3 separate regions of the Homo sapiens genome follow, and regions 1 and 2 are each linked to region 3. The links come from fine-mapping of genetic effects on gene expression. A gene starts in region 3. Each other region holds a variant in brackets. All regions are shown on one strand. Distances are between the middles of the regions.

Region 1 (9,692 bases), 47 kb after region 3:
TCAGCTTGGTGGCTTTGCCACACCCTGTCCACGGGAGGCTCGCCTTAAAGGCCTGTTGACTGAGTGAAGATGAACCTGTCAGGCTTCAGGGGCTCAGGAGAGGATGAAGGACTCGGAAAGAAAGTCGCTCCTGAGTGGGACTAGGGGCTGCTTCTTTGGGAGCTGGGGGCTGTTGCGGCCCCCTCGCTCTTCCCCGTGAGGTTTCTGATGGTGGCTCTAACCTGGCCGGGGAGAAAGACCTAGAAAATGCAAGTGTTCCAGGGAAGCAAACTGCCCAGGGTGGCTGCTCCCTACCGGGTCCTGGCCATGGACGGGAGGGTCCCCTCGGGGGTCAGGCCCTGACACTGCAGCCCCCCGACCCCACAGGCACTGCCTCCCTCCGGGATCCACATCTTCGCCTCTCAGCTCCACACACACCTGACTGGGAGAAAGGTGGTCACAGTGCTGGTCCGGGACGGCCGGGAGTGGGAGATCGTGAACCAGGACAATCACTACAGCCCTCACTTCCAGGTAGGAACCTGCACCCCACCCCTGCCCCGCCCCCACACCCTGCCACCACACGACCTCCTGGGTCTACTGTTTCCTGACACCATAGGGATGGCTCCAGGCTGGCTTCTTTTTCCTGGGCCAGCCCCACCCGCCCCCCACCCATGTGGCCTGTGCTCCCCACTTGGGTGTCTGGTGTCTGATCGTAGGGAGGCCTCTGGCACATGGCAGATGGTGGTGGGATTCGGGAGACCCAGGCGGCCCTCTGGGAACATCAATCTTGGTCTTGGATAACCACCTTCTGGTTTGAATCTAATGCCCTCCCTGGCCAGAAGCCACACTTAGCGGGCTCTGGCTTCCACTGTAGAGGCTGGGGCAAAATGGACACCCCCAGAGGTCAGGGAGGCCTGAGGGAGGACACAGTGGCCGGGGGTCTGGTCTGCAGCTCTCTGAGGTCTCCTCTCCCCCACCCCTCGGCTCTGCCTGCCCCAGGAGATCCGCATGTTGAAGAAGGTCGTGTCGGTCCATCCGGTGAGTGCCCAGCGGGAAGGCTGTCCCACTCACTGCCACCAGCTGGGGTGGCTGAGAGGGCTGGGGGTGCCACCAGAAGGAGAGGGACACAGAAAGTGATAGGGGGAGGGAGAGCCATCCAGGGCAGGGGGAGGGTGCCTGTGGGTGGCTCTGGGCTGGGCTACCTCATGGGGAGACTCACTCAGGAGTTCATGGAGAGACGTTGGAAAGAGTGGAGCAGACAGGACACTCCCAGGGGACGCGTGTCCTCAGTCTGATGGGCCGACCACAAACCCGAGAGTGTTTGGGGGAGATGAGGGCACTAAGGCAGGCAGTGGAGCCCTGATCCCACAGAGGGCCAAGCCCAGGCCTCGGTGGGGACTTGCCCAAGTCCTTTGAGATGTGTCATGGCCCACCAGCTGCACCCCCACTGGCCTGGGCCCTGGCCCTGTTGTGACCCACTGGGTCACAGGAGCTGATGGTTTATAACTTGCTCGGGAACACTCAGCCTGTGACCTTCGCACATGAATCTGCTGGGCTCCTTGTAGTGGACGACAGGGACTGTACCCCAGAGGTGCCGTGGCATGCACAGTGGCGTGGTCCTATGGGGGCGAGGCCTCCAGCACCTGCCAACGCCAGGTGGCAGGTGCTGATGGTCACATTGGCTTTTCCTCAGGGAGATGTGCTCATCACCTCCTGCACGTACAACACAGAAGACCGGGAGCTGGCCACAGTGGTAAGTCACCCCCGCTTCCCCCTGCACCTGCCCAGGGCGAGTGTTCAGCCTGAGCCATCTGAGGAAGGATGACAGGTCTTGACTCCTCACTTAGGGCATGGGCTCGTCCCCTCAATAAGCCAGTCGTTCTCAGCTCCCTGAACCACAGTGGCAGCATCACCAGGGAGCTTGGGATGAATGCAACCTCCTGGGTGCCACCCCAGGCCCACTGAGTCAGAGACACAGGCGGTGGCATCGGGCAATCCATGTTTTAACAAGCTCCCAGCGGATGTTGACCCCTGCTCAAGGTTGAGAAGCACTCACACCAAGAAGCTTCTCAGCACCCGGGGCTGGTGTGGGGAGAAGCTGTAGGACAAGAGGTTGACCTTTGCCCCGTGGAGCTCAAGGTGCACCAGGGAGACAGGCCTGGAGCACCTGCTGCTAACAACAAGCAAAATTACAAAACAAAACTTTAAAAACCAGGTTGAGGAGGCAGAGGTGCGGGGACCTGGGAGGGCCTTGTCAGAAATGTGGCTGTCACATGGAGCCCAGGGGAGAGGGGAGGAGGTGAAGGAAGGCTCTGTGCAGGGGCTGCGTGCGGGAAGGCCCAGAGGACCAAGAACATTCTCAGGATGGAAAGGAGAGGAGGAGAGGGTGGAGACATGGGTGGGGGTCAGGCAGGATGAGCGTCAGCTGAGGATGCATTTTGGCTGGACTGCAGACAGTTCAAGGAGAATCTGCACTGGAGAGATCTATTTTCAAGGCTGGGTATGCAGGCAGCACCAGGACACGGGCAGCCACGTGATGCATCACGCAGCGGGGCTGCTTCCGGGAGCCAAAGGGGATGCTGTTCACAATTACCTGGGTCCCAGGCACAAGCCAGGGCTGTCCTGGCAAATGGGCCACCTTGCCAGTGGATCCGTGCCAGCTGCTTCGGTAACCATGGTGGTCTCCAATAATTATCCTGTGAATTGTGTGGCTCAAGTGGAGCAGACCTGGGTTACAGCTACCCTGACATCCCTCAGCGCCAGGAACTCAGGTCCATGTCACAGCCCTATTCTTTGTGTTTTAATCCAATGTGGATTCACCTGATGTTTACTGAGCCCAGACTGCCAGTGGTTTATTTTATTTTATTTTATATTTTATTTTTTTTTGAGACGGAGTCTCGCTCTGTCACCCAGGCTGTGTGTTCTCAGCTTGCTGCAACCTCCACCTCCCGAGTTCAACCGATTCTCCTGCCTCAGCCTCCTGAATAGCTGGGACTACAGGCACCCACCACCACGCCTGGCTAATTTTTGTATTTTTAGTAGAGATGGATTTTCACCATGTTGGCCAGGCTGGTCTCAAACTCCTCATGTAATCCCTCATGCTGGGATTACAGGCATGAGCCATAGCACCCAGCCAGTGTTTGTATTTTCACAGGTGAGACATAAAGGCTCAGAGAGGGCAGGCACTTGACCAAAGTCACACAGCTGATAGATGGCTGAGCTGGGATTTGACCCAGGGTCTTGTGCCTCACAGCTGTTACCCCACCCTTCCTGTCTCCCTTGGATTTCAGGTGACAAGTGTCCTAGGTTCCTGATCACAAACTCAGGGTGGAGACAGGACAGCTTTGTCAGTCCTTTATTCTCTCTAGAGGAGGTGCTCAGTATATCACAGCAGTGGCTGATGTCGGGTGCTTGCCACAGCTCAGCACTGCTCTAATAACTCATCCTAACCACACCAAGCCTTGCTGAGACCTCTGAGCAATCCCACCAGGAGATACAGTGAGGTCCAGCCACTCAGGCCACACAGCGAACAGGAGGCAGGGCTGGTATGGGTGCAGGTGCCAACCCCGACTGTGCCGCCTCTCGGCTAAGCACCTGTGCAGTGACTGAGTGGGCTCGCAAACAGAGGGCTCTGCAGGTGGAGCACCCCAGGCAAGTCCCCACCATCAGCCCCATTCTGCAGGCGCGGCCCCGGGGCCAGGGATGGGAGGGTCTTGCCGGGCATCCAGCGAGGAGACTGCATATTCCCTGCCCAATCTGGCTTCACGGCGGCGGAACTGACGCCACGTCCCAGGGCGTTCGGGGCTGCCAGGCCTGGTGAGCACCGCGGACATCTCAGATGGCCGTTCTGCAGGTTGAGGCCCTCGGTGCCAGCGTCCCCGTGGGCAGTTCTGTGGCTTCCCTGGCCCATGTCGTCCTCTTGGCAGTGGCCACATCACAGCACCAGGTGGGATCAAAGGGGAGGGCAGCTCCCCAGGTGGACCTGAGCTTCTCACACTCTGACAAGCCCTCGCCTGCTGATCCAAGACACAGTGGCCTTTGAAATTCGATTTCCTTCCCCAGGTGAAAGAGGAGAACAGATTCTACACAGGGTCGGACTCAGTTCCCTTTTGATGTCTGTGGTGGCAGAGGGTGGGGAGGGACAGGAACTCACACAGGAGGGCAATCGTCCCGATCTGACGGGGGCGGGATGGATGAGAAAAGCTGGGAAAGGAGGAATCCGGCCCAGAGAACAATGCTGGCAAAAACGCGTCCTGGCCAACAGGTGCCAGGTTTCGTCTCTGGGCAGAACTG[T/C]CCCATGCTCTTTGTCTGCACGGGAGGAGGGGGCGGCAGCTGGTGTAAGTGCCACGCCAAGCTTTGCCCAGTCCCTTTGTTCTGCCATAGAGTAAAGATTGCCTTTCTTCCCCACCAGCCAGATGAAATCCCCAGGCCCACAGCAGCTTCACAAACAGCGGGGAGCCTGGAGGGGCAAGGGTGGCCAGGGCGTCATGTCCCGGCCCCTGACCTGCTGGGATCTGAGCTGCTGCCGGGGGAGCTTTGCTCTCTCCAGCCCCAGCTCCTCCAAGCTGCTGCTGTTCTTCCTCCTATGGCTGAGGCTCCACGGTCACCAGCTCCAAGAGCAGCAACCCAGCGAGGGGCTTAAAGCTGGCAGTGGGGACTCAGAGGGTGCCTGCCCTGCCCCTCCCATGCGATGGCAGGCCGTAGGGTTGCCGTGAGAGGCTGGAGGTTGTCGCGGCCTCTAGTCACGGTCCTGTCTTATAGAGTCCCTGCTCCCCTCAGAGCCACGTTGGAGAAATGACTGGTGGACGGTGCGGGGCTGCAGTGGAAAGGGCCTCCCTTGCAGTCCTTGGCTCCAGGCTCTCGCTGGAGGTCATGGGGACAGCTTCCAGACAATGGCCGGGACGCTGGGTGCACTCAGGCTGTGCCACCGATGCTGTGGCCACCACGGGGCATCCCCTTGCCTGCTCTGAGACTCAGTTTCTGTACCCATAAAATGGGCACAATAACACCCCATCCGCTTGTCCCGTTTCATTTTTCCTCACAGCATCATCAGTACCTGATACGAATTTCCTGGTTGACTCACTCACTCACTGCCTGTCTCTCCTGCCAATGGTGGCAATTCCTTGAGGGCAGGGACTCGGTTCCCCAGAGCATGCCTGGCACGGTGCAGTGAACAGACGAGTGGACGCAGTGTACACGTGGGTGCGGCGAAAGCTGCTGGATGGCAGCGTCTGCGTGGCATGGCCCGGGGCTGACGGGTCTCCTCCAACTTGCAGGGGGGCTTCGGGATCCTGGAGGAGATGTGTGTCAACTACGTGCACTACTACCCCCAGACGCAGCTGGAGCTCTGCAAGAGCGCTGTGGACGCCGGCTTCCTGCAGAAGTACTTCCACCTCATCAACAGGTGAGGGCTCCCTGCACAAGCTCCCTGCCCCCAGGGAACCCCGACACAGAACCTCGGGCCTGTTAGGCGGCTGGGCAGATTGGAGGAGTCCAGGCTAAGTTCTAGGAGCAGAGACCTGTGGCGGCATCACTCACCCCTCCCCTCACTCGTTTCCTGCTGAGTCTGGATTTGGCTTCAGAGCCTCCTCAACCCAGCCTGCAGCAGCCATTACCCACCCGCCAAGGTGACAGGAGAGGTGAGGCCGTTGCCGGTGAAGGCAGCATCTGGGGTGGCCTGGCGGAGGCAGCGGGGCTGGGGAGGAGGTGGCAGGACGGTTGCCCCAGGGACAGGACTCGAGTTGCAGGGAGGTGTTGCTGGTGCCCACTGGGCTCCCTGCCCGTCAGCTGCTCCCCAGCCTGGCTGTTCCTTGTCCCCACCAGGTTCAACAACGAGGATGTCTGCACCTGCCCTCAGGCGTCCGTGTCTCAGCAGTTCACCTCTGTTCCCTGGAACTCCTTCAACCGCGACGTACTGAAGGCCCTGTACAGCTTCGCGCCCATCTCCATGCACTGCAACAAGTCCTCAGCCGTCCGCTTCCAGGTGCGCTGCCATGGGCCCGGGTGGGGCATGCAGTCAGGCAGGCCTCATGGGGGGCCCCAGTGAGGGGTGATGGGTCTGCACTCCAAACTGCTGGCAAAAGCACTCGCACAAGACAATGAGAGCAAGTGCCAGGTGGTGACACATAGGCCTAGACAGCCAGCCAGCCAGCAGAGAGAGAGGAGAGAGGAGAGAGAGGAGAGAGAGGAGAGAGAGGAGAGAGAGGAGAGAGGGAGAGGGAGAGAGGGAGAGGGAGAGAGGAGAGAGAGAGGAGAGAGAGAGAGAGAGAGAGGGAGAGAGAGAGAACCAATAACGAGGCAAGGAAGGGAGGGCAGGCACCCTCTCTGGTGACACCTCCACACTGTACCGAATGCCAAATGCAGGTGGTGTGAGCAGGGCGCACTAACCTGCCTAAAAATAAAGCACCAGGGGAGGGGAAGGTAAGAAACGAACCAGTCTGAAGCTGCGAGCTGGTTTTTTCCTCCTTATCTGAGACCCACTGGTATTCGAAGGCATCTAATTTATCCTGGGCCCACTGGGCTGTGGTCAGGAGGCCAGGGCCTATGCAGAGTTAGTCGCGTAAGGTGCCGCAGCCTGGAGATCCAGGAAGATCCTTCCCAGAAGCATTTGGGAGCCAGATTAACTGCTAAGTCAAACATCCTCAGCACCAAGGGAAGGAAGGGCTAATACTGGCTTGCTGAGAATAGTGTGGGGTGGACGTCTGATGGGGTTGAAAACTTGGCATTTGGTGTAGCCTTGAGGGGAAGAGATAGCTAAAAAATATCAGAGCCTGCAGCCAGGGGCTCTGGTTGCTACACTAGGGTGAATGATTAAATTGGGTGGGGACAGAGGCGGGGAGAGGCCTGGATGACTCCCAGGTTCCTGACTAGGTGAATGGGAAGCCAGGGGAGGGGGCATTTACTGAGGTGAGGACCCCCAAAAAGCAACTTGGGGGAGCAGAGTGAGTTCAGTTTGAGACAAGCTGAGTTTGAGGGCAAGAATCCAAGAGGTGGCTGGGAAGTGGCTGGGGAAGCAGCCACCCATCTTGCCCCTCCAGCCTCAGTTTACCTCCTGCCCCCTTCCTTGCAGGGTGAATGGAACCTGCAGCCCCTGCCCAAGGTCATCTCCACACTGGAAGAGCCCACCCCACAGTGCCCCACCAGCCAGGGCCGAAGCCCTGCTGGCCCCACCGTTGTCAGCATTGGTGGGGGCAAAGGCTGAGGGGGGACCTACTCCTCCCCCTCCTCCATGCTGTCCCTGTGGGCTCACACCGGCACTGTGCACTCTACTCTGCGACGATCCCCATGGAACAGCCCTGCACGCCCAGGATGAAGGGGCCAGACCACGCCCCTGCCTGAGACCACGGTCCAATCCAGCCTTCTTCCCCCAGGGTCCCCTGCATGGCTGAGAGGGTGTGGGTGCCCTGTTGACCTACCCTGGACCGAGTGGACCACGACCTCGTCCATTTAAACCCGGCTGACTCAGTGCAGGGACAGCCTGCACAGTGGTCCAGGGTCCAGCCCTCCGCCAGCCCTGTTCCGCCTCACTGGGTGTGGCCTGGCTTCTGGGACAGGCACCATGCTGGGCCGGGGTGTGGAATCACCGGGAACGCCCCCGCCCCCGCCCCGCTGCTCCCGGTGTGCAGCGGGTGCGGGTGCCGCTTAAACATTTCCCTGCTGAGTGGCTCGTGTTTCACAGTGGGCGGCTTCCCTGCGACGGAGGCAGGACCAGGCATTTAGCTAGTTAGAGACTCGCCTGGGAAATTGCTCCATTCCTGAGTAAACAGATATTTTCGCCCACCTAAAGGGAAGCCCTGACAACAACTATCACCAAAAGACGAGGCGGCAAAGATCCAGCGGGGCTTCTGGGCGCCGGTTCCACGTGGGGTGGAATTATTAGCACCAGCTTGCTTCTCTGCCGGTGGGGCCAGCGCTGAACAGACCGGGGTGGAGTCAGGGCTGTGCTTTCCGCGTGGTTCTGCCACTTAGGGAGTGTGCCTTGGGCGGGCCATTTCACATTCCTGACCCTCACTTTTCTCATCTGTAAAACCAGGCTGATGCCGTGCGGGCTAATGAGCCAATAAAGCTCACACTTGGGCTGGCACCCACTGGAGGTGGGTATGTTTGCACTCCGGGCCGTCGCTCCAGGAGAGAGAAGCTTGCTCCTGAGCCTCCTCCCTGTGCCAGGCGTGGTACCAAGTGCTTCCCCCTGAGCGTCCTGAAGCTGCCTCAGCTGGCCTGGGTGGGTCTCCCCTTCCTGCCCTCTGAGCTGCCTCTCAGGGACAAGTTCAGCTCTTTGATGGTTTCTGGAGACAGTAACAGATGCACTTGTGTTCAGCCACTTCAGCAAAACGCTGCCCAGCCTCATGGGGAGAGAGGGAGATGGATGGGCCTCGGAGTCCCCTCGCATCAGCTAAGCGGCTGCTGCTTCTGCAAGGCACTTCACTTCATCACAGAAGGGAAGTCACGAGCCCAGGAGCTCTGCCTCACGTTGTATAAATCACAGCTTCTTGTGGTCCATAAGTCACGGCGCTAGCGCTGTGAAATGCCAGGCCCCAGCCTGGAGAGCCACTCCGGCCCTCTGTCATCTTTACAGCCTAGGTGACAGTAGACACGGAGCAGGCCCAAGAAGCCTCTTCCCGCGATCACACCCAATTGCCAGCCCAGAGAAGGGTCCCAGGGTCCTGCCCAAACACCTGGGGGGCACTTGTAGCCTGCCGATCTCGGGCAGGGAAACTGAGACTCCCAGATAAGTACCTCACCTGGGGCCCAAGAGCGGCAGTGATTGGGAATCCTAGCCAGCTCTGGAACCTGCCACAGCGACAACCCCACCCCCACCTCACCCCCCACTCACACTCTTGCTCTCAGGCTGGTTATCCTCTTCCTCTTGCAGAGACAGCAGCCGTGTCCCCCCTACCCCGCTCCAGCAGTACCCGCACCTCCTACACCCAGATAAGCGTAACCCCGTGGTTGCTGAGAGTTGCCACTTGCCCCACACTGAGGCTATGCACAGCCGTGGCAATCTCGTGAAGCCATGTAGTTTCTGTTTCCATTGATGGAGGAGGAAACTGAGGCTCAGAGACCTAAAGTTAGGTGCCAAGGTCACCCAGAGTAAGCCGGGGAGCTCGAAGTGTCCCCAGGTCTGACTCCAGTGTCTGAATGCTCAACCTCTGCTTACTTAGGAAACAGGAATTTCCCCAGGACCCTTGTGGGGGATTTTATCTAAAATAAGTTCCTTATTTAGAGGCTTAGGGGAAGTGCTTTGTTACCTGAAAATGACCTACATGCCCCAAGCCAAAGGGACTCTGGGCTCGCCCACCTTCCGAATGATTGGGGTGTGAGTCCAGCAGCCCAGGTTGCTATTCCTGCCCCTGCTGTGTGACCCTGAGTTAGTTACTTTCCTTCCCTAGGCTTGGGTCTCCCTATCTGCCCACCGAGGAGAGGGTTCCCCAGCCTCCCAGGGGGCAGGGACTGCTAGGGTGGCACAACCCCCCATCTGTGAGGTGCTCAGAGCCCTGGGGTGAGGAATGCTCATGCCCATCAGTGTTGAGAGAAGTGGGGCGACCCCAGGCTCCAGCCAGCATAGGGGTGCCTGCCCGACTGGGTCCCAGAGCACACCAGGGCTGTGCTTTCTGGTGGCTGCTAGCCTCATGTGGCTACTTACGATTAATTTTAAATTAATTAAAATGATACAAGGTCGGGTGCTGTGGCTCATGCCTGTAATCCCAGCACTT
Region 2 (9,596 bases), 26 kb after region 3:
TGCCAGTGAGGGATGGGTGTGGGAAGGTGAGGGCCCCGGCTTCTTCACCCTTGATGTGACAGTTTTGGGGTGCATTCCACAGTCTCTCCAGGGTCCCCTTGGAACTGAGTCCCTACTGCCCATGGAGGAAACTGATTATGAAAGTACGGTTCGTGAGTGTTCCCACTCCCCTGCCCACCCGTCTCCGCACACTCTGAGCTCTCCTTCCACACAGCCTGCTCACATCCAGACCCTTGCCTCAGCGTCTGCTTTTGGGAGAACCAAAACCATAACAGGACAAAAAGAAGGGAACACAGTCTCCGACTGCACTTGGGGGTCCCACCAGAGTGTGACGGTGCCAGCAGACACTAGGAGAGGAGGGCGCTTGTATTTCCTGTGGCCACTGTAACAAATGACCAAAAACTCTGAGGCTTAAAACAACACGATTTTTTTTTTTTACAGTTCTGGAGGTCAGAAGCTCTAAAATCAAGGTGTCTGCAGAGCTGGCTCCTTTTGGGGGCTCTGGGAGGGGAATCTGTTCCCACCTTTTCCAGCTACCAGAGGCCTCCACATCCCTTGGCTCATGGCCCCTGCTCCGTCTTGGAAGCAGCCTCCTCTCCTTGGACCCCATCAATGCATCTCCTTCTCTCTCTCGTAGGACCTTTGTGATGACATGGGGTCCACCCAGCCAATCCAAGACCACCTCCCACCTCCGGGTCCTTAATCTAATCACACTGAATGTCCCTTCCCCAGGTAGCCTACCCGACTTGCAGGGATCTGGACGTGGCCATTGGGGGACATCCCTCTGTCTGTCACACCACACGCCAGAAGCTCAGAGAGATTCCAGGGAGGGAGGCGGATTCTCATGTTCTCCGAGACCCTCCTGGGCCAGAGCCCTGCCTGTTGGACCCTGTGATGTCAGTGGGTGCAGCAGCCCCCGAGATGGATGCGGGTGAGGGCAGCCCGGGGCTGTCTCGCTAGCCCTCACTGCATCGGCCCCATTCTGGGTCAATGGTAGGTCAACCTGGTGGATCTCTGAGGTGACCAAGCTTACTGACAGATGAACTACAGCCTCAGGAAGAGGGTCATGGCTGGCAGGAGCCAGCGGGGGGCAAGACCAGCAGCCCTGAGTGCTGGTGCAGGCCACGCAGGGCCCAGCCTCTGTAGCCAGAAGTCAGCGCCAGTGCCGGTCCTGAGCAAGATGGCCATTTCACAGATGAGGAAAGAAGGCTCAGGGCTGTGGGGACTGTCCGGGTGGGTCACATGGCCGGCAGGTTTCAGGGCCTCTCTTTCCATCTGGTGCCCACAGTTACGCTGTGGCTTGGGTGTGGTCTGGAGCTACTGCCTCAGGACCCACCACCATCCTGGCAGTGTGGTCCCTTCAGAAAAGCTGAAAATGCAAAAATCAGGCACATGCACCTCCCCCCATGAGCTGCTCAAGAGAGAGGAGCAGTCACGCATCCTTATGGAGAAAAGGAGAAGCAGGACCCAGAAAGGGTTTCCCTGTAAGATTCCTCAGGGCCCAGCAGGCCTCAGCCCCAAGATTGAGGCCAAATTATTGGAGGGGTGTGTGTGTGTGTGTGTGTGTGTAAAACTGAGTATGTGAGCATGAGCCCAGAGCTGGGGGTGCAGGCCACGCAGGTGTGAGAGTCCACCTCCCCATCTCGCTGACCCCTGTGTATGGAGGAGAGATGGAGGCGGGGGAGGCTGTGTCCTGCCCAGGCCAGCCGCCTGCCAGTGACAGTGGAGGACTTGCTCACAGTGGGGCTGCTTGGGGTCACACAGGAGTGGCCTGGCAGGCCTGGCAGCCCCAGCCCTGGAGCCAGCCACAGACTCCTGGGTTCTGCTTCCCTGGGAGCTTCCAGGGGAGTGTCACTGGGGCTCACGATACCGACCCCTTCTGGGATCAGTGGCCCCTTGCTTTTGGCACAGAGCTTCAGGGCCAGAGGGTGCCTCTAATCCAGTAGCTGAGGAAAGCTTTCAGTGGTGCTCTGGGCACCTCTGTGACCTGCCCTGGGCCCAGTCCTCATGCTGATCCCACTGTAGCCACCCTACTCAGTGCCCCAGGCCCTGGACACCTCAGGCCATGGGATATCCCAAGCATTCAAACTCTCACGGCCACCTACGCTTATGAGCAGAGGCAGAGGCATGGTGCCACCGCTGCCTCCTCAGGCAGGATATGCTTTTTGTTTGTTTGTTTTGAGACAGGGTTGTTCGCTGTCATTCAGGCTGGAGTGCAGTGGTGTAGTCAGGGCTCATTGCAGCCTCAAACTCCTGGGCTCAAGCGATCCTCCCGCCTCAGCCTCCCGAGTAGCTGGGACTACAGTCTTGTGCCACTATGCCTGGCTAATTTGTTTTTATTTTTATTTTGGTAGAGACTGGGTCATGCTATGTTCCCCAGGCTGGTCTCGAACTCCTGGGTTCAAGCAATCCTCCCGTCTTTGCCTCCTAAAGTCCTGGGATTATAGAGGTATGAGTCACTGTGCCCAGCCCAGAATGTGCCTCTTAACTTTCATACCGCAGCCCCTATGCTCAGGACGAGGAGGGACATAGGCCAGCTGCCCCAAGTTCCCCAAGGGGACTGTGCCACCCTGGAGTGGGCTCTGTGATGGACAGAGTCACCGTCTCCCAGCAGCTCCCAATCCATCCCATCACAAGTCAGGTCTAGGCACTGCCATCAGACTGATAGTTGAATTTTTCCTGCCAAGAGGAGGTCCCTAAGAGCCTGAGCCACAGGCGAGGGACAGTGCTGTCCTGTGGCCAGGCCCCGTTGTCACTGGGGAGTGGCCTGGCCTGTTCACTCACCCAGCTCCAGTCTGCACCACCGTCGCTCCACTTGGGGTTGTCACTGCCTGAGGTTAGGACGTCAGCAGAAGCCAGCCTCATGTGGCAGAGGCGATGGGGAATTACAGCCTGCAAAGGCTGATGGCATCAGAGAGATTCAGGAAAGCAAAGGGCTTATTAAAAAGCTGAAATTGGTTCTAAACAAGGTCAGCCGTCGATGCGCCTTGGAGGGAAGCCAGGCGCTGAGCAGCAGGAATGGGGCTTATTTCCTGACACCGTGGCCGTGACACCCTGCACCTCCCCGGCCTACCCCACCCCCAACCCCACTCCCACCCCCATTCCCATCCCCACCCCCACCGCCACCTCTGGAGGGCAACGTGCACCCAGACACTGGAGCAGAGGCAGCAGGGGTGGGAGCAGGGAGGAAAGCCCCCCGCGGGGCACCACAGGGAGGCATGTGGCCAAGAGAGCACCTGGCAAGCAGGTGTCACCTCTGAGGAGGGTGAGGGCAGGAGGAGAGCTGACTGTTGCTTCCTTACCCTGGGGTCGGATTGCTCCCTTTTAAAATCCATTAATGCAAGGAAGGGCGCAGCCACGGGGCCATCCGATTGGATTCGCTCCCTCCCGCCCGGCCCCAGTCTCCGCAGATTTTCTCTGCGGTTGCATTTTTCATTTGAGCGTCCCTTCCTCTTGACTCCAGTGGAATTTTTCTGACCTTGGCTGACAAGGTGTGCAGCCCCCTCCAGCTCAGGGCACCCTCTTTGGGGTGCTTGCCCCAGGCACTGGCCCACCCTGTGAGCTCAGGCGCATTGTCTCGCCTCTCCGAGGCTGACTCTCCTGTGTCTGAGACAGGGATGATCGCACACCCAGCCACCCAAGGCTGGCCAGGATGGAGGCAGGGCAGGGGAAGCCCTGGTGCGGCCTGACTTGTGTCTCCTGTCCCTCCCTAGGACTTAGTTATCAGTATTTTGGAATCAGCTGAATCATTTCTGTCAAATGCTAGAGGAAAGCCAGTTTTGAGTTGGATAAAGAAAATGTCTTTGATTCCTGTTAAAAATAAACATGTGTGCATAACACTGCTGAGCACGAGACCGCACCTGCCGTCCCTCCTTAGAGCTCCCAGCAGCTGTTGGTCTTTGGCGTATCCGGGAGAGGAGCGAGGCCTGGAGGTGTGTTGAGCCGTCCAAGGGCTGGTAGCATCAGGGGCTCTTCACTGCCTCTCGCTCCACAGAACCGCTGGGTTGAAGGAAGCTGGAGGGATCAATTGTCCTTGTCATCCAACTTCCTGTGTCTGTAGATGGGGAGGAGGCGCTGGGTTGGAAAGCGCTTCTCTGAGGACGCCAGCTGCGCATTCAGGAGGGCGGAGCAGGATATGACCCCAGAGCTCTGACCCCGGAGGAGCAGGAGGGGTGCCTGGGGCCTCAATACCCCAGAGGGGAGAGAGGTGCCCCCCTTCCCACAACGCGGGCCCCAGCTGGTGCTCGTTTAGCCTGTTGTCTAGCTGGAGCCACCTGGGTGGCCACCAGGCTGCTGGGAGGGCTCACCCCTGAGCTGGGTGTGCTGTGGAGCCCGTGACCCTCACCTCTGCCTCTGCTGGCTTTTGTTATCCCGTGCTGGGAACACCAGTGCCTGCCCACCCCGGAGGCTCTTCGTATCACCGGCTCGCTGTGGCCGCTCCCCAGTCCCGAGAGTGAATGTCCGGGATGCAGCAGACACCTGCTTACAAGGCACAGGTGAGGAGGTTTTGGAACTAATCTGAGGCATGAAGGTGAGGTGCTCTCAGGCGACGGAGGTGGCATGTCCTGATGGGAAAGCCAGGCCTTCGGAGGCTGAGACCCTTCCCAAGGCTCACCAGAGAACTCCCAAGAGTGTCTTTCCCCTGGCCTGGGAGACAATTTCACACCAATGCCACACTCTATTGCACAGGTGATTATGCACTTGGACCTCACCTGCCTGGGCTGTGGGTGGGGGCGAACGGTGCCCCTCTGGGTGCAATCAGTGGGGAGGGGCTCATGGCCTGAGCTTGGCTTTGCAGGATGGCCTGGCCACTGTGGGGCAGAGAGCACTGCCTGCGAGGGCCAGGGGAAGGCTGGCACTTTCTCCAAATTTCACGTTCGTGCAAAGACACAGTCATTCCTTTCTACAGCGTAGAGCTCAGAGCTGAAGCAGCCTCCAGACCTGCTGTCATGGGTATTTAAGGACCTAAATGTTGCTGTCAGCCTATGACATGAATGTGCCCCTAAGGCTAGATTCTGGGTTTCTCCAGAGAGACGAGAAACAGGAGGGAAAAGGAAGGAAGGGAGGGAGGAGGCTGGGGAGGAGGGACAGCTTCTAGTCCAGCTGGAGAGATCTGTCAACCCAGCCTGGGGGGTGGAGCTGGAGGGATCAAGCAGAATGTCCTGAAGGCAGCTGCCCTCAGTCTACTTG[T/C]GGGAGAGGACAGGAGGGAGAGGTGCCGTGGTGAGACTGACCCTCGGGCCCACGGGTGGATGATGGCAAAGGTCCTGTGGCAGGTGTGGGAGAAGCAGGGCTGCGGCCAGCTGCCCTGAGAGGCTTCAAATTCAGGCCAGATCTGCTCTGGGCAAGAGGAAGCTGTGGGTTTGGGAGCTTCAGAGACAGGGGAGCAGGCCTGTCACTCACCCTCTTTTCCTTAAAGGCTGTCACCCCCAGCAGTGCACCCTGCAGCCTGCCTATCCCCTGTGCAGCTCCAGCTCCGTCTGTCCCCAGCAATGCACCCCACGCCCATGTCCCCCACTCCCTATGATGCTCTCGCGCCTTCTGGAGCAGCAGTGGTACCAGCTGGAGGCTGTGGAAAAATTGAGAGGAGACAAAAGTGGGAAGAGCAGGCCGTGGAGAGAGTGTCTAAACACAGGGACTATTTGGAGATTGTCTTATTTTTGGTTTGAAATGGGCCCACCTGCTAGTATTGTACAAACGGCTCTGCTCGCTAGGCCAGGCCTGCAGTGGCTACGGGCCTATCCTTCACTGGTCAGCCTGGAGCAGCTCCTCGGACCTCAGTCTGCTCATCCGTGGGTAGAGGCGACGCAGACCCCATCCCACTGGGGACTGGGCCAGACAGCCTGTGAGGCAGTCAGCTGGTGCCTGGCCAGAGGGTGTCTGAAAGGCCTCTTGGCTGCAGGGTGCATCTGCTTTTGGGACAGCTCTTCAGAGCCATCTCAGAAGGGACAGCATCCGCCTGTCTACTTCAACTCCCACTGATGACGTCCATGTGTCATTAGTGCCAATTAGAGGAGGGCAGCAGGCTGAGTGCTTGGCCTGGGGCGCAAGCTTGTGGGAGGGAAAATTGGATTCCCCGCTAGACAAATGTGATTACCCGTGCTGCCTGGACCCACCCCATTCAGGACCAGGGCATAAATGGCCAGGTGGGACCAGAGAGCTCACCCCAGCCATGCCCGCCCTCAGTCGCTGGGCCAGCCTGCCCGGCCCCAGCATGCGGGAGGCAGCCTTCATGTACAGCACAGCAGTGGCCATCTTCCTGGTCATCCTGGTGGCCGCACTGCAGGGCTCGGCTCCCCGTGAGAGCCCCCTCCCCTATCACATCCCCCTGGACCCGGAGGGGTCCCTGGAGCTCTCATGGAATGTCAGCTACACCCAGGAGGCCATCCATTTCCAGCTCCTGGTGCGGAGGCTCAAGGCTGGCGTCCTGTTTGGGATGTCCGACCGTGGCGAGCTTGAGAACGCAGATCTCGTGGTGCTCTGGACCGATGGGGACACTGCCTATTTTGCGGTGAGTCTCTCCTCCCTGCCAGCTCTCCAAACCCTTCCTGACCCGGCACCCCATCTGGCCGTCTTTCTGCACTCACCCTCCTTAACCCAGAAAGTTCTTCTGTCACCTGTCAGTGTTTGAGTTGACTCTGCTCTGAGCCAAGTCTGCACCCCGAGCTTGGGCATCATGGGGATCTCAGTTTGAGGACAAAATAGGAAAGACATGCTTTCCATGGTCCTTGACTGCCCGCCCCAAATCATGGGACCCAGTAATCCCAAGGAATGGAACTATACACAGAGGACGCACACACCACACACACTCGTGCCGCTCCACACCCCACACGCGCATGAGCACAGACCCCACGACCCTCGGCCCTGTAAACAATGCCTAGTACCACGTCCCCAGAGCACACATGCCCACTGATGTGGGCCAGGTGGTGGCGCGTGGCTGGGCACAGCATGAGGCCTGCACACCCATGGGATCCAGCCTGACCTACTGTGCTTGTACCCGTGGACCAACTGAGCAGGTGCAGACACCCTGCCCCTACCCATAGGTGTTGAACAAGCCCCACAGGGCTCAGCCAAAACTGTTAGGATGGGCTCTTGACTCCTTTCCGTCCAAATTTACCTCCACTCTTGTTTCACAGGGTGGAGAAAGGGGAAAAGTTTCCCTTCAAACTGGAGGGGACTTTAGGCCCTTCCACAAGCTGCAGGGGGTCCCCGAAGTGGGCGAGCCCACCGCCTACAATGGGTCCTGCTCCAGCCTTCCTTTCCACATGGGACTGGCCACCAGGGCTTCTTTGTGGATGAAACCCAACTCTCTCCACAGAAACACACAAAGGAGTGACAAAAAAGTTTTATTTCTGAAGTCAGGAGGTGCCTGCTTTATCTGGGAGTGCCGAGCTGGAGCGGGGGAGCTGTGTCTGTGCGGAGCGGCCGGCTCCAGCTCTGCATCTTGGTCTCACCATGGGCTGGTGGGGCGGAGAGTCCCTCTCTGCCTTTTTGGGTGTTGTGAATTCATGAGGGCAGATGGTGGCTGCTGTTTCTGGAGCTGAGCTTGCCCCCTCCAATTCCCAAGACTCGGCCAGGAGGCACTTGCCTGTGTCGCTAGTGAGGCTTAGGGCCACCCAGGTAGGGTGAGTGGAGCTGCCTGGGAAGGGCCCTGCTCTGACCCATAGGGCTGCACAGATTCCTGTGCACAAAGACACTCTGTGGCTCAGGTTCCAGCCAAGAAAGACCTGGGACAGCCCTGATTCTGAGCCGTCAGCCGTCTGGAGGAGCAGCTGAACCCCATCGCTGACAGTTTGGGGTTCTTCGCAAGCCTCTGCCATGAGGCACCCTGAGTGCAGGAGCATTTGCTCCTCTCTGGGGCAGCGTCCCCCCTGCCTGCATTTCCCGGCTGCTAGGGAAGCCAGAGGAAGCCAGGTGACTTTGCCTTTCCGTGCACTGGCAAGGTTAATTTGCACAACAAATTCCTACGAAAGCAAATGTCAGCCTTATTATTCCTCCCTAAGCAATATGTTCAACTAATATCTTCTTGATTTCCAGCTGAAATATCACAGGCGAACTTTCTGCCTCTGTTTAAAATGAGTCTCTCGGCAAACCAGCGGTGTCCCCAGCGGGGTTGCATTGTGTGGCTTTTTTCTCTAGGGAAAGTTTTGCAGTATCTTTTGCAGATTTCTTTTTTCTCAAGGAAATGAAGAAAAGATGTTTTACCCTGAATGTAAGATTAAAAAGAAACACAACCCAAAGTCCTTAAGGCCAAGGGCCCGAGGCTTTCTTGGGGTTTCCATGGGAAAGGCCAGGCAGGGCAGGGAAGCAGCTTCGTTTGGACAATTCTGGTGGGCTCTGGGTGGCTGGGGTGGTCTCTAGTTGCCTGGTTCCTGGCCCTAGGGTGTTTTAGGGTTGGGGCAATATTGGCCTGGGGTGTGAGAGTCAGGTGGAGGAGGTAGCTAGGGATATGGGCTTGGTGTGGGTCGGAATGTTAGGAATATGATTCTCACACACGTGTGAATGTTGGAGGGCAGGACAGGTGTAAACAACTCTGACCATCTGTTTGAGCCTTCAATCAATTAATAGATGCCAAATAGACAAATATGGAATCTAAGAAGGGCCCTTCTTGAGTACGAAGGGCAGCCTGCTTGTTGGGGAAGGCTCCTCGCTGTCTCTCAGTGGGTCTCCCTGGTGGTCTTCCATGTGACCTGGCCTCGGGCCACCGTGTCCCTGCCCCTTAGGGCCCAGTGCAAGGGGAGCGGCCGGAGACGGGGAGGGCAGAGGTCACTGATCCAGATCCCAGGAAGCATCCTCGGAGAATGCAGCAGGTCCAATGCCTCCCTGGGCCTCAGTTTACCTTCTCCAAGCAGGGCTGGGACTAAGGTGAGGGGAACAATGCCTAGGCTGCAGGGTTTAAAGTGGTGCTTCAGGCTGGGTGTGGTGGCTCATGCCTGTAATTCCAGCACTTTGGGAGGGCAAGGCAGGAGGACCGCTTGAGGCCAGGAGTTCAGGACCAGCCTAGGCAACATAGCGAGACCCTATCTCAAAAAAAAAAAAAAAAAAATCCAAAATTACATGTATTTATAAAGTAATAAAGCAGTGCTTGTTCTCAGGGTTGTGCCAGTGCAGGGTGGGCACCTGCTATCAATCACCATCTTAGATGTGGCACCCTGGTTTCTCTCTCCTTTCCTGTTCATGTCCCACCCTGTTCCCAACTCTCCCCTTTCTGAGGCTCCGCAACTCTCCTGCCTGCATGAATGTGGGCAGCATTGGTCTGAGGCATTGTTCCCAGTCTTGAGGAGGCCTTGGGAGCCTCAGGCATCTTCTTAAGAAGCTCAGTGTCCCGCCCGCCAGGCCCGGGAATGCCCATGGCTAACAGAACCTGTGACCTGCTGGCAAGTGACAGCCCTGGTTCCTGGCTGCAGAGGAGGAACCAACTCCACTGTCGGGGCTCATCTCCACTGTCTCCAGGCAGAAATGGAGATAGAAGGTGTGAGTGAAGCCACAGCCCCAGGCAGAACCCTCAGATCCACAGGGACTGAGGCCCAGCATCCCCAGATCAGCTGGCAATGAATGCGGAGCTCTGCCGGGGAATGCCCTCTTCCCCTGTGGATTGG
Region 3 (9,692 bases):
AAGCAATTCTCATGCCTCAGCCTCCCGAGTAGCTGGGATTACAGGCGCATGCCACCACGCCCGGCTCTCTTTTTTGTATTTTTATTAGAGATGGGGTTTCACCATGTTGGCCAGGCTGGTCTCAAACTCCTGACCTCAAGTAATCCGCCTGCCTTAGCCTCCCAAAGTGCTGGGATTATAGGCATGGGCCACTGCGCCTGGCCTATTTATTTCTATTCACACTGCACATCCCTCATCCAACTATGAAATCCTTCCCTGGAGTGATTACTTGAGTGAACAAGTATATAAAATGAACACACACAAAAAATAAAACCTGTGGATGGCCTACATGACTGTTTACTGATATGGGTCCAGGTAAATCAATGACAGACTAGGGTGTCGACATGCAGACACAACCAAGACCTGTTAAGTCAAAAGGACAGGGAACAACACACACAGACTGGTCTCTCGGTGGTGCCCAGTGTGGCTGACACACACGTCACTGACACAGCCGAGCACTGGGGGGCAGGCCACACCCAGGAAACCGGGGGCTTTTACTTTGTAAAAAACCAGCCAACCAACCAACCAACAAAAGCTGAATAGCTTGGTTTTTCTCTTACTGCAAGCATGTATTTCTTTTATTCAAACACCCTTTAATATATGAAGTTAAATATATAAGGAGCATGAAGGAGACAGTCACCCTTGCTTTATGCAAATAGAACCTCTTTTCTGCCGTGGTGGGCGGTGAGTCTCAAACTCCACGGAACACAGGAATCACCTGGGGGCCGGTTACAACAGGTCTGGGGGCCTGGGAACCTGCATTTCTCACGGGTTCCTAGGGATGCTGCTGCTGCTGCTGCTGGTCCCCGAACCCCATCTGGAGTAGCACGATTTCAGATTGATGTCTATAAGGTAGTGCAGCCAGATACAGCAAATGCAAATTAGGATGATTTCAAAAGAGAGAGGACGGTTCTCCAGAGACCCGGGACCTGCCAGCAGGCCCAGCTCCCAGACAGGGCCAGCCTGTTGCACACAGAAACTGTGGACCTCCTCGTGAGGAACGGAGATGGAGGTGGCGATGATCCTGCCTGTGTGTGAACACTGAGGTCAGGAGCCAAGGCTGCCCCACGATGTGGGGTTTGCCTGCTTGCCAGGTGCAGACCGAGGCCTGTGGGCCCCGAGGCCACCTTACGGCAGAGCCAGGAAGTGAGCACGGGTCGGGGCTGCGTGGGGTGGAGCTGGCCTGGAAGAGGTTTTCGCTAGGGCTCTTCTCCCAGTCTGCTGGCTGGGAGGTAAGCTGGCACATCAGAGGCGGATGTAATGATTGCCATTTTATGAATGAAGAACCTGGGGCCCAGAGAGGCTGAGTAACCTCACGAGGGACGCATAGCTTGGATGGAAACACGGCTCTGCTGAGCTACAGAAGCTGTGCTCTTGTCCACTCAGCCACACTGCCACCCTCAGTAGCCAGGGAATGTGGTGGACGAGGTGGCAGCCCTGGGAGCCTGGTTTGTTTTGGGGTCTCTGTCCCAGTCCCTGCCCAGCCTCCACCGGAGCTCCCTAGCTGGTGCAGCCTTCTTCCACCTCTGCCACCTGGGAAAACTGAGCTCAAGGGCAGAGGTGACTAGCTCGGTCCGGCAGGGACCCACTCCCACAGGCACGGACGGCTCCCCGAGGGCTGAGAGCGCCCAGAGCACAGGCGGTAACATCCAGCCCAGTGGGATGATGGCTCTGACACTGAGCTGCTGCTGAAACAACAGTCCTCCCCCAGGGCCCCGGGGCCGCAACCTCACTGCCTACGTGCGGCCCATCCCGAGCGTCCGGCGCTGCCTGAGCCTGACTTAAGGGAGTGGTATAGGAGTGACATTTGGGCAGTCTCAGGCCGTCTCCCATCACCCCAACACAAACATCCAGCCCTCAACATGCTTGTCACTTGCCCTCTTCTTACCACCCTGGTCCAGGCCTCCATCATTTCCCTTCCTCCCCAGCTTCCTGCCTGCAGGGCCCCCTCTCCAAGTCATTCCCCATGGTGCAGCCAGAGAGGGTCCCTAAAGGGCAGAGCGAACCATGTCCCTCCGGGCTCCCAGAGCCTGGTTCCTGTGGACTGCGGCGGAAAGCCCAACCACTGAGCAGGGCTTACAAGCCTGGCGGAACCGGACCCCACCTGACTCTCCAGCCTCCTCCTTCACTGATGAGGCCCGAGGGAAGGAGGAGGCACAGTCTCCATTTTCCAGCCCAAGACCTTCAGGCCCAGGGTTCCACAGCCAGAAAGCAGCAAAGCTGGGCTTTCAACTCTACCTCCACCAGCCCACTTCACCCCAGGGGCAACAGGATTCCTTCCCCTCTCCAGCAACCCCCAGCAAGCGGGGATTGGGCCAAGGCCTGCGGGAGGATTCAGCAACGGAGGGAGGGAGCTGGCAAACACTGAGGCCTCGGAACTCATCAAATCCCCTCTGGAGCAGATCCAGAAAGACTGAGACACTGCAAGAAGTACCAGTGCCAAGTGTGGCAGCAGCTGGCAGAGAAGCCCCCCAGCCCCACCCTGGCCTCTGTAGGGTGGTCCCCAGGACCACATGCTCTTGGCATCCAAAAGCCTTTTGGCCAGGCTCACGGTTGCCCCGGTGTCCCATGTGCCAGCAGGGAAGGCAGGAGCACCCTCATTTTTGCAGATGGGGATGCGGAATGATGCACCCGTGGTCTGGCCTGGAAACCACTCTCTCTGCCACACAAATTGCCATTTTACCAACACACAGATCAGGACTTGCTACTCTGAAGAGGGAAGTGGCGGTAGGGCCAGGAGCGGAGTGGAGGACAGAACAAGGGCTCGGCTGCTGCTCTGCCTCCCCTCCTGCCCCGAGAGTTTAGAGTCAGAGGTAATTGACTGAGATGTAATACATCTCTCCCCTCCCGAGTGCTGTAATTATTCCTCGCTGGAGCCCGCTGCCATGAGGCTGCAGAGGCAGGCCCACGTGGCAGGAGCCAGAGGTCTCACTGCAGGAGTGGGTCTCCATGCTGTGAAGCCTCACCCAGAACCAGCACCAGAAAAGTCAGGAATATAGAGCCAGCCCCTAAATATACAAAACGGGGGTGATCATGTGAGTAGGGAGTAGGGTTGGCACGGACTGGGGGCTTGGACTCAGGTCAGTCCGAAGATTTCAAAACTGCTCTGCACTCCCTCAATACCATGGCAAAAAGGGAGGAACTGCACTCCTCCCAGCTTTCCTACTCCATCCGGGGCTTAGATGAACAGAGCTGTAATGGCTCAGAGGGGGGACATGAAATGATCCACCCCACAATTTTGTACATGGGAGACTGAGGTCTAGAGAGGAAAGTGACTTGCCCAAGGTCACCCAAAAAGGTGGACAGAACTCGAGTCCCGACTTCTCCATCTGTGCCCACCTTTCCCCAGGTGCCCTTGCTCATGTTTGCTGATGGTACTGGCATGACAGACGTGTGTTGGGGACTCCAGCCTCAAGGGTAGGAGGAGCTCTGTGGGGCTCCTTGCCCTACCTGCTGGAGAGGCGAGGGTGGAGAAGCTGCAACACCTCTGTGTGCCAGGATTCTGAGTGGTGTCAGCACGTCCTGAGAGTCCAGCAATGCACCCTGGAGCTCCCACTCCCTCCCCATGCAAGTGGGGCACTGAGGCTGGGAGAGCCTGTGCATCCTTCCCAGACCCCCAGATCCTTCGGGAGCCATTTCCAAGCTTTCCGGCTGAGTCTAGACAAGCCGGCCCCATTGGAAACTCAGCTGATAGGGAAACCAAAACCCAGCTGGATCCAGGATACAAAGACTGCCCTGTGGGTCTTTTCATAGCATCGTGCAGATGCTCAACAAACTGCCAGCAAGTGCAAGACCGAATGAACAAAACCCCACATTTCCTGGGCCCCCGAGCCTTAGGGTGAGATTTTTTCACAAGCTGCCAGCACCTAAGCTGTTTAGGAAGCTTGCAGTCAGTGCACCAAGAGTTAAAACCAGCCCTTGCCCAGCCCAGGAAGTGCTGGTTCTCACCTGCTCAGGTGGGTAGAGCCCTGGTCACCTCCACTTCACTCTCAATTCTATAAGAGGGAGAAGGTGGGAAGATGGGCAAAGGTGCTTTCCCAGCAACCCTGAACTTTTTGGGGGTTGGTAATTACTGCTCTCCCCAGAAGCCCTGAAGAGCGTGAGTTGGCAGGGGCTGAGGGAAATGCAAGGGAGAAGGCTGGCAGGGTGGCCCGCTGGCTCTCCTGAGCTCCTGCTTACTGGGGAAGGTGCTAGGACGAATGCTGGGGCTCAGGCCTCAAGGATACTCCCCTTACCCTGCAGAAGGTTCCATGAACTTGACCCTTGAGTTTCTTGTCTCAGAGCCATCGGGGTTGCTACGGGACACACACTGGCAGGACCACTTGTGCCCAGGCAGTCCGTGGCTGCGGGAGGACAGGACACGAGTGGGGTGAGACAGTGGAGCCCTGAGGACCCATGTTGAATATCTCTTGGGTTTTTGGTGTGTAGAGTCTTTTCTTTTCTGGCTGAGGAAACCTAGTGTCAGTTAGGCAACCCCCCACCTGTCAATGAAGCAGAGATTCCTAACAGACAAAGGTGTGAGGTGGTGGTGACAGAGGCCGGCGTGTTTGAGGCCATCTCCACCACTTCCCCACTCTGTGATCGTGGGCAAGAGACCAAACCTCTCGGAGACTCAGTTTCTGCATCTGTGAAATGGGGCCAATGCCCCTTTCTCGTGGGTGTTGGGTGAATGGGATGGGATGAAAATGCAGCACCGACTCTGGAAGAAGGCAAAGCTCAGCAAATGAAAAAGTCTTAGCTCCTGGCAGGGAGAGAAGGCGGCCAGGTTTCCAGAGGGCTCTTCTGGGAAACTTTCCCTCCCCACTGCCCCCTGCCCCCAGGCCACTGTTCCGAGGGAAATGAAGCCCCCCTTCCTAAAGTGGGTCCCCCACCTCTCCCTTAGGCCCTCGTGCCCACCTGGGTCTCAGTCTCCTCCTCGGGGATGCGCTTTGAGGGTGGAAGCCAGGGGATGGGTGACGCCAGCTGGGTCAGGGGACCTGGTGCGAGGCAGCCGGGGCAGGCTGCAGTGGGCACTCTGGACGAGTGGGCACCTAGCTGGAGCTTTCCAGCCTGCGTCTTCTGCCCCACACCCCGTGACCCGCGGCCCGCTCGGCCCTTACCTTGAAGCATGGGAACCGCGCTGCCCCGGCCGCGAGGACTTGGGCGCACGTGACGGGGCGGGCGGGCGTCCGACCCGGGCAGGGCGCAGCTAGCGGCGGCCGCTCATGCCCAGGCCACGGCGGTGGCGCCTGGTGTGGCTGGGCGGGCGAGGCGGGCGCTGAGAAGCCCGGGAGGCCCCCGGGGAGGCGACTGCGTGCCCAGGCGGGCACCCCTGCCAGCTCCGCGCTGCGGCCGCGACTCCGGACGCCCCGGCTGGCTCCCTGCGAGCTGCACGCGCGGCTCCAGCCTGGTCCCGAGCGCAGGGCGCGCGCTGGCGGGGAGGGCGCGCGCCCGAGCCTGGCGGGGAGCGCGCGTCACCGGCCCGCGCGCGCAGTCGTCGGGGGATGCCGGGAGCGGCCTGGGGAGCTGTCCCTGGTGCTGACGGCTCGTCCGCTCTCGCCCGGGACGCGCGACCTCCTGGAGGCCTGGGGGTGCCCCCACCCTGGCCGGCGCCCTGCGGTGCTCCCTCCGCTCTCCGCCTGTTCTCGGGGCGTTCCGGCTTCCACAACGTTGGGATCTGGAGTCAGGCCGAAGCTGCTGCTTATCCGCAGTAGGGCAAGTCCCTTATCCTGGTTGAGCGGCTGGTTCTTATCTTTAAAATGGGGAGTTAACACCAGCACCTTTAGGGTTGGTCTGAGAATGAAATCCGATGATGTTTCGAGGCCCGGCACACCATAAGTACTTAATAAATGCTCGCCTTTGTTACTATTTATTTCCCTTCTCTGAGTTAGCAACCCCGGAGCAACTGAGAGGAGGAGCAAGGCTTACGCTGCTCCTGGTGAGTGGCTGTTTGGGGCATGGCGGCTGCCTTTGGATCTCTCCCACATCCACGGGGAAGGGGAGCAGATCCCTTCTCCCTGACCCCAAAGCACAGAGCTAAGACCAATGGCTAGACGTTAAAGCAAGGCAGATTTGGGCTGGATACGAGGGAGACCTTTCTGACCCAAGGCTCCTACTCCTGAGAGGAGTGCCCCAGGAGGCATTTCCCTGTTTCTGCAGGTCCTCGAGCTGAGCCTGCGGTCGCAGGGACCCTGAACGGAGAGAAATCTGGTGTTAAGAATGTTAGGAAGGCTTTTGTGTTAGAACATGTACAGCACTCAGAGCTGTGCCTGGTGGGAAAGCACCATATAAATGTGTGCTTTTTTTTTTTTTTTTTTTTTTTTTTTGAGCCATATCACTCTGTCACCCGGGCTGGAGTGCAGTGGCGTGATCTCAGCTCACTGCAACCTCCACTTCCTGGGTTCAAGTGATTCTCCTGCCTCAGCCTCCCGAGTAGCTGGGACTACAGGCATGCGTCACGACACCCAGGTTGTTCTTTTTGTATTTTTAGTAGAGACGGAGTTTTGTCATGTTGGCCAGGCTGGTCTCGAACTCCTGACCTCAAGTGATCTGCCCGCCTCGGCCTCCCAAAGTGTTGGGATTACAGGTGTGAGCTGCCACGCCTGGCCTTAAATGTGTGCTTTCATTATGATCAACCTTTAAGTTCTCTATAAAAAAACTCCATCCTGGTAGTAACCATAACCTTGCTTCATTCTAGACATGAGAATACTGAGGACAAACAGAAGAGTAAAGTGCTTGGAGTCCATTTCCCTTTTACAGATGGGCTGAGCACAGATGGGTGAGCAACTTGCCCATGGACAAGAGAGTGAGTGTTCACACCATACAGACATGCTCCAAATGTCCAGCCTGCTGCCTCCCCTGCTGGGGCCCCTGGCAAGGGCCCCTGCTGAGTTTCTCCAGGCTGATCAGGTCACTTTGACCATAGAGAGTTTTCTTATAGCAAACCAGGCTAGTCCTCCTTCCTCTTAACTAATGGGAAAAGCTGGTCCCTGCCCCCTGTGAGTATCTTGTTCTCTTCCAAGCAGGATAATTAAACATCACCTGCTTCATTTCCCAAGGGACCAGGGGCTGTGTTTGATTCATTAATTAACTGCGAGTAGTACCTGCTCCCACCAGGCACTTGTCTCATGATAAACATCACTCATTATGTGCTTAATGCGTGCTAGACACAAGGCTAAACACAGTGCGAGCATTGCCTCATTTAGTCTTCTCAGCGATCCGATGAGATATGGATACTGTCATTACCCTGACTTTGCAGGTGAAAACTTTAGGCTCAACAGCAGCAGACCTGAGGCGGATCGGCCTGATTCCCAAGCCATTGCTCCTAATCCCCTTCTTCTAGAACTTCTACATCCTTCCCAACCAGCCCCACCTAGAAAGAAGGATGGTAAACACGGATAGAAATTCCTTATAAGGAGAGAGAGAGAAAGGCAGAAAGAGAGAGAGCCAGGAGGAAGAGACAAACCAGCCAGCCAATCGATGTCCTAGGAGTTGACACAGGAATCCTTTAAATCATCACTTTTAGTCAAAAACTCCATTATGACAACTGAGCAACTTGTTTTTTATTTGAGAGTTGCAAGTGTGTGCCAAGAATTTTAAAAGCAACATCACTGCCAAGCCCTGTCTTTACCAACCAGCTCAATGCCCTTCCACTTCTCCCCATGCTGACTTTTTACTCAAACTCTGCAGAATCCTGCAGCTATAGATCTGAGCAGCTGGAAACCTCTGTGGAACCAGCTCAGACTCTGTAGCTCTTGGCCTCTTGACATGCTGGTTTCTTTCCCATGCTGTGGAGAGAGATGTGTTCCTGATGCCCGTGATGACGAAACCTTATTTAAAATGGAGCCCATTTTATTTGAAAGAGGTCTGAATATTACCCACAATATGTACAGTAGATGCCTGCATTGCCCTCGCTTTACAGATGGTAACAAAGGGGTGAAGTGACTTGGCCAAGGTCACACAGCCAGCAAAGAGGTGACTACACTGAATAGATTTCATTTGGATCGCAATGCCAGATGGTCACCACCAAACTCATTATTTATGTGCAAAAGCATGCCCTGATTTTAAGCAAAAACCAATTTCAGAAAATAAAAATGGGTGAGGGGAGAGAAAGACAAGGAAGAGTCTCTGGTCTGACTTTATAAAAACAATTCATCATCAGGATTCCCTAAATAGCAAGTTCTCCTGGTGCGTGCAAAAAAAAGGATCCTAGTTACACGCAGTTCTTTTAGGTTGGCCAAAAACAGGCCCGGGGGTGGGAGGAGTGACATTCTGCCGCCGGACTGGTTCTCCATCCACTACAATAAGCTGTTTAGTCGCGTGGCAACCTCAGCCAACGGCAGCTACTCTGTCCCCACCACCAGCATCATTCCACAACAGAGCTTCGTGGATATAACTCAAATTCAACAGATGGCCAAGTTGGTTGAACACCTCCCAACACATTGGTTCATGGGTGGCAGTTTACAAAGGTTCATTTTCCACTTAGGGCAAATGGGGCTTGCGTAAGATCAGCCTGACACTATACAAGCAGGACCTCTGTGCGCATCCGTTTCTTGGAGTCGAGTTGGATAGCCTCATTGCTCAAAGACTTACAGCCTCATGAAGAAGAGGCATCAGGCTTTCTTTCTCTCTGAGGATCTATATGTGCACAAGAGGTGCTCATTGGCTGGATATAGAGGAAAAAACAAAACCAGCGGTGGCGGGGAAACCCTGACATTCCAATCACACCTGCACCCCCATGCACAGTCCCCTGCACACTCGAATGGAGGGAACGACGTTCTTGGGAACAAAGGATGTGAGCAGCTGCTGTTGATGGCTGAGTCTCATTCTACAGAGGCAGAAAGAACAAAGTGCTCGAGGAATAAAGTTTCTGCCAGGATGTGGAGAGTAATGAGAATGATGGCCAAGAGCTTCTCCTATTCCCTTTCTGGGAACCCTCTGGAAGGGAGGAGCTCGCCATCTCCAGACATGTCTGAGCAGAGGCTGGCTGTCCACTTGCAGCACAGCTGGCACCCGGGGACCCCTCGGTGTTAGAAGTCTGTGAGATTCCAGAAGGGGCAGCTGCTCACTGGTCTGTGTGGGTGCCCCCTGGCCCCCAGCACCGACCTCCATTCAGCTGCTCGATGGATCTCAGGGCACTGAAAGGGGGTCCACGTCCGGTTTTCCAAGCTCCTCCTCATATTGGTGCCAGGCCAAACTATTGAAGTGGTTGCTGTTTCCACATATTTATGGAAATTACCTGGGCCTTGCCGCAGTTACTAGATTAACCTTTGTTTGGTCGTTGAATTGTTTCCTCTTCTTAGCCTGCAGCCATAAGACGTTCTGCAGTTGATTGACTGAGCCCAGCAACAGCCCCTTTGATCCGTTTTCACTGAACCTGTGTCCACTCAACTCCAGATGATCTGTGCAGGTCAAGATCAAGCCCATTTAGAGAAGAGATGAACTTTTTAAAAAGAAACTATTGAGAGATGGGTAACTGCAAGTCACTGTGATTACTCTGTGATGCCGAATAGGCAGAGTGTGCCTCGCATCCTGGGTCTGTTAGATTGGACGTCTTTTAGATGGGACCAGGAGAATGACGAGGTACCAAAGTGTGCAAGAGAAGGTGAGAGGGTCGGGCAGCAGAGTGTGCCAGCGGACAGAGTGGGAGGCGTGCGCGGGCTCAGGTGTGCAGC

What was found.
Region 1: its variant is fine-mapped to the expression of FAM163B in cerebellum (GTEx, PIP above 0.99). The same link has a PIP of 0.9 or more in cerebellar hemisphere.
Region 2: its variant is fine-mapped to the expression of FAM163B in liver (GTEx, PIP above 0.99).

The regions. Positions count from the first base shown.
Region 1 is chr9:133,651,268-133,660,959 of GRCh38, forward strand. It overlaps DBH (dopamine beta-hydroxylase), which reads left to right. Exons shown (of 12, transcript NM_000787.4): 7 at 367-510; 8 at 979-1,017; 9 at 1,673-1,732; 10 at 5,256-5,383; 11 at 5,803-5,962; 12 at 7,049-8,062. The coding sequence ends at 7,180. DBH-AS1 (DBH antisense RNA 1) reads right to left here and starts at 6,141. Exons shown (of 2, transcript NR_102735.1): 1 at 5,860-6,141; 2 at 3,320-5,270. It also overlaps a transcript of SARDH not described here. RefSeq lists an enhancer at 3,216-4,015. The variant T/C (reference allele first, on the strand shown) is at 4,273.
Region 2 is chr9:133,630,203-133,639,798 of GRCh38, forward strand. DBH (dopamine beta-hydroxylase) reads left to right here and starts at 6,161. Exons shown (of 12, transcript NM_000787.4): 1 at 6,161-6,508. The coding sequence starts at 6,170. RefSeq lists an enhancer at 7,426-8,161. The variant T/C (reference allele first, on the strand shown) is at 5,191.
Region 3 is chr9:133,603,939-133,613,630 of GRCh38, forward strand. It overlaps FAM163B (family with sequence similarity 163 member B), which reads right to left and starts at 5,451. Exons shown (of 3, transcript NM_001080515.3): 1 at 5,139-5,451.